Linked DNA regions of Homo sapiens: region 2 is linked to region 1. A link means that fine-mapping ties the variant in region 1 to the expression of a gene that starts in the linked region. Tissue or cell type: blood mononuclear cells. Region 1 holds a variant in brackets; the other region holds the start of a gene. All regions are shown on one strand. Distances are from middle to middle.

The links. PIP is the estimated chance that this variant, and not a neighbour inherited with it, causes the effect.
Region 2: it holds the start of EPS8, and the variant in region 1 is fine-mapped to the expression of EPS8 in blood mononuclear cells (TOPMed, PIP above 0.99). The same link has a PIP of 0.9 or more in monocytes and whole blood.

What each region holds. Positions count from the first base shown.
Region 1 is chr12:15,702,151-15,705,002 of GRCh38, forward strand. All of the region lies in intron 1 of EPS8 (EGFR pathway substrate 8, signaling adaptor), which reads right to left. Among named protein-coding and RNA genes, the nearest start is that of EPS8, 86 kb to the right of the region's middle. The variant T/G (reference allele first, on the strand shown) is at 1,429.
Region 2 is chr12:15,787,866-15,790,365 of GRCh38, forward strand. It overlaps EPS8 (EGFR pathway substrate 8, signaling adaptor), which reads right to left and starts at 1,523. Exons shown (of 21, transcript NM_004447.6): 1 at 1,296-1,523. RefSeq lists silencers at 591-670, 1,001-1,120, 1,381-1,730.

The sequences.
Region 1 (2,852 bases):
AAAAGGGCAAAGTGCTTAGAGCAGCAGCCTAAGGAAACAGAATATATTCCCCCTGTTAACACCACTCTGGAGATGCTAAAGATTCAGAGGTGCTCTTGGAAGCCTGCCTGTCCAGTGTGATTTTAGGGTTGAGAGAGTATCATCCTATTTCCTTAAAATCTATCGTTTACACAGGCGACAAGGTGAATAAAATTCTAGCACTGGAAATTAATTCATTCTTTTGAGTTAAGCATTTTCATCCATAGGAAGCACTTTTAAACTACAAACACTTCTGGGAGTAATAATGTATTATGTCATTAACATTTAAGTGTGGATTATGAGATACTTTCTCCTAGGATAAGAGGACTCTGGGGTAATGTATGAATGTCTATGAGATCAGTGTCTGGAAATCTTCATAGAGCAGCAGCAAACTACTGAAGAAAAAAAATGCATGCTTAATGTTTTTACCTATCTCTAAAACATATATCCAGTATATTAAATATGAAGAAAAAAATTGCATGCCTAATATTTTTACCTATATCCAAAACACATATCCAATACAATATATAAATATGAAGAAAAAAATTGCATGCTTAATATTTTACCTATATCCAATACATATATATCCAGTATATTAATAATAGTGAAATTATGAAAGGAATTCTAGCTTATGCACGTAATGGTTATTAAAGGTAAACATTCAATAGAGTGAGCAAAACCACATAATAAGTTCATTCGAGGCTGGGCGCGGTGGCTCAGGCCTTTAATCCCAGCACTTTGGGAGGCCGAGGTGGGTGGATCACAAGGTCAGGAGATTGAGACCATCCTGGCCAACATAGTGAAACCCCATCTCCACTAAAAATACAAAAATTAGCTGGGTGCAGTGGCGTGTGCCTGTAGTCCCAGCTACTCGGGAGGCTGAGCCACAAGAATCGCTTGAACCCAAGAGGTGGAAGTTGCAGTGAGCCAAGATCACGCCACTGCACTCCAGCCTGGTGATGGAGCGAGACTCCGTCTCAAAAAATAAATAAAAATAAAAATAAATAAAGAAAAATAAGTTCATTTGGTATTTTTTGGACATTTATGCCTACAAGGTATTGTGCTTTGCATGATGACATATAATAAACATACTTTCTCTCCTCTGGGAACATTCAGTTCAGCAAGATGGATAGATATACAAACAGATAATTACAATGCATTTTAGTAAATGTTATTACTGTATGAACAATGTACTAGGAAAGTGTCTACCTATGGAAGCTGCTTGTAGGTTTCATATAGGAAGAGACAGTAACATCAGGTCTTGAAAGACAGTGAGGAGTGCACCAGTTGGTACAGGTACAGGTAATTAGAGAACATTCCAGACATATACAAAGGATATGGAAGGACATGAATTTCAGGGAATAGTGAGATATTCAGTGTGGCTGCAATACAGAATATATGAAAAGAAGA[T/G]GTGATGAAGAAAAGCTTGATGCCAGATTGTGAGGGGCCTTGTAGAGCATATAAAGGAATTTGGACTTAATCTTTTAGGAGATGGTAAGGAGTAACAATCATATTACTAATGTTTAAGAAAATAACTATGCAGGCATTCTGGAAGGCAGACTAGATCAGAGAACGAAGTTGACACTTTCAGGAAGCAAAGTTGATTATTTGAGATAATTGTATCTGTCTCTTTCATTTCTATAGGAATCTTCCCACCTGTATTCTGCTCTATGTATTTGTTTTTTTTTTTTTTTTTTTTTTTGGAAAAACTTAGACTCACCTTTGTTATTCCCCTAATGTCTCCAAACTCCGTAATTATCCAAAGAGAAACCGATATATTAATTTTAAATCTGCCCACCACTTACCTCTAAGGACAGAGACCACACTTCCTAGAATTATTAGTTACACAAGAAATCCAATGAAGCTATCTTCATCCTATTTTAGAAAGTTCATTGTAAAATTCCAAAGACTGTAAGAATAGAGGGTTTTCCTGCTGGGTTTTTTTGTTCGTTCATTTAAAATATCCCTTTAATGGTGTAGTCATTGTGGAAAACAGTATGGCAGCTCCTCAAAAAAATCAAGCATAGAATTACTATATGATCCAGCAGTTCTTCTTCTGGGTGTATACCCAAAAGAACTGAAAGTAGAGACTAGATATTTGTACACCCATGCTCATATCAACATTATTCACGAGAGCCAAAAGGTAGATGCAACCCAAGTGTTGTCCATTCACAGATGAATAAGTAAAATATCATACATCTACATAAGGGAATTATTTATCCTTTAAAAGGAAACAGACATCTCTCATACATACTACAACATGGATGAACCCTGAAGCCATTACACTAAGTAAAATAAGCCAGTCACAAAAGGACAAATACTCTATGATTCTCCTTAAATGAAGAACTTGGAATAGTCAAATTCAAAGACACAGAAAGCATAATGGTGGCTGCCAGGGGCTGTGGAAGGTGGAGAATGGGTAGTTATTGTTTTGGGGCACAGAGATTCCATTCAGGAAGATGAAAAACTCCTAGAGATGGATGGTCATGATGGCTGCACAACAATGTGAATACACTTAATGACAATAAACTATACATTTAAAGATGGTTAAGTTGGTAAATTTAATATCAACTTTATCACAATAATTAGAGAAATCTGAGGAACAAATGAACTACTGAATGTCTGTGAGCCTATCAGGTAAAGCCACCTGGTCTGTAAGGCAAAGACTAGATCTTATTGTAGCTGCCTCTGTTATGGGGATGTACTAGAAGATTAACAATTTCCTTGGCATGCGTGCGCATGCACACACACACACAAAAAACTGTCCTTAAAATCCTGTGTGTATATACACACACACATACATATACATGTGTGTATATTTTTTAAAATTTGAA
Region 2 (2,500 bases), 86 kb after region 1:
AGAACTACAGCAATATGTTTAGAAAACTGCGATCCCAAACAAAAAATCTATACTAGGTGAGACAGGATGACATTGACTTTAATTCCAATAGACTCACTACCACATGACGTCCATTACTAGTGCTCACTTTCCAGAACCCAAGGAGCTGTGGAAGAATGGAGTCCTTTCAATGAAAATAAACTAGAGGCAATACACAACACAGTTACTTTGAGGGGCTTTTTCAATATAAAGAAGATTGCCCGGAATCCTAACTCTCCTATTTCCCAAAAATGACAAAGCCAAAAAGTCACACTCTTCACACATCTGAAATCAAGTTTTACCTGAACTCATCCTAACATATTAGCTCTTTTACCTATTCCCCTTACTATCTAAGGCAAGAAACCTTGAAAAGAGAAGCAGTAACACATTTCACTGAAACATATTTTGTAAAGGAGGATTCTAATTCCTAATCCTTCACCGCTCTAGATGTCTGCGGATTTCAAATCCTAACCACGGCGTCCTGCCCCCCGCGAGATTCCAACAGTACTACGGGCCCTATGGGAGGAGGAGGATTTGAGAAACACTGCCGGAGAACGGTCGGTGCAAAGATTTTGCAAACAGGTAGTCCTAGGAAGGAAAGTAAGAGTGAGAACATCGGAGAGGGCAGGGAGTACATGGGTGGGGAAACCCCTTTCAAATGCATGAACTGACCACAACCGGAGAAAGGCCGTCTGTCTTCCCAAAAGTAAAATGGTGAGTAAAGTGGAGCAAGCTAAGAAAGTCAACAGCCATTAGGCATTGACAACGATTCCGAAACAATTAGCTATGTTAATTCGAGGGGGTAAACGGGGGTGGGACCCTGCCCTAAAGGGTCATTTTGAAAAGAACCCCTCCCCATTTGAGGCGGGTTGGCAGAGCAGCGCACAAATCCCAAGTCTAACGTAATAAGCCGAGATCGGGATACTCGGTCTGCAGTCGCCCCACGGACCAGATGAGCGCAGGTGTATCTGCGGAAGCTCAGGTTACCATGAATATCACTGGGCCACGGCGAACCCTCCCTGCCCAGCCTCCCGGAGCCCTGGGCGCGGGTCTGCACGGGCCCCACAGCTTGCCCGGACCCGGCGAGCGGACGCCTCCGGCCGCAGCGCCCTACCGCACCTGGCTGCCAACACCAGTTGAAAGCAGTCAAAGTGAAGGGAGGCGGACGCGGCTCCTGGCACCGCTCCGATTCCAGCACACAAAGGCGGATTTTTAAAATCGAGAAAGTCAAAGCCGCCGGACCCCGGGACCGGCGCCTTTCGCCAAGGGGCTCTTACCTCGGATCCGCCCTCGGGGCCACGGCTTTCCCCGGAGACGCCGCGAGCCCAGACGAGGTGGGAGGGGACCGGGAGAAAGCCCCCCAATCTGATTCGCGCCCAGCCAGTCGTCCGCGAGCCGCGGAGCCGCCTTCTGCACCCAGCTAAAGAGCAGCGATCTCCGAGGCGAGCACAGCGCCGGCCTCGCGCCGGGCGAGACCGCCTCGCTAGCTGCTGCCTGTGAAGTCTGGAGCCGCCCGCCCGCTCGCAGCCAGTGCCAACCGCGCGCCGCGCATGCCCAGTGCCCGCGCGAGGAACGAGCGAGCGGGCGGGCGGGCGAGTGCGCGCCCCGCAGCCAGGAGCGAAATCCGCTATCCGGGTCTTGCCGGCAGCCGAGCCGCAGAGTTCTGGTCGACTCCAGCGCTTGAGGCGAAGTGGCCGGTGAGGCCGGGTGGGCGGGAGAGGGACCGGAGGAAAGGAGACGGGGCGCTGCGCCAAGTTATCAAGGCCGCGATCAAAGTCGGACCAAGGCAGCGAGTCGACAGCAGGTTTCCAGAAGTGCCCTAACAGGACTGACTAGCAGCCAGGAGGCGCAGGAAGGGGCAAAGAGCGTGTGGAGAGCTTCGCCCCCGGCGAGGATGGACGCCCCGGGCGGAGGGAGCGCTCGGGTTGCAACACCCAGTCTGGCTGCACAGCTCGTAACCCCTGCCCTTTGGCGGCAAACAAGACGCATCTAATGACCAGCCAGCCTTCGTCTTCCTCCTCTGATCATCGGACCTATTTTCCCCCTTTTGTCGCTCTCCTCTTTTTTTGTCTCTCCAACCCATGCGGTAAACTGGTGGTGCCCAAGGCCCTCCATCGGGTCCCTGAGAGTCTCCCAACTGCCGGTCCTTAGCGCCAGCCTGCAAGCCCAGACCCGCCTCGCCAGGCTGCCTGTGAGCCTATTTTTCATGTAGCTCTTGCCAAAAGCCCTGATGTGGTTTGAAGTAGTGGAGGCTTCTTTCACTTTGTGCCTCTCGTACCTTAACCAACCCTCATAACCTCCTCTCTGAGTAGCTCATGGAGCCTCTAAAAGAGAAGTCCATGTTCTCATAGACATTGTGTTTTCTCACTCTTAAAACTCCTCATTGTCATAGCTACTCCCCCAATCCCCCCATGCTGTCCTAACTTCGAAGTCAGTTGACTTCCAGAAGTCCACGAAAGCCTATAAATTAAACTTGGTTAAA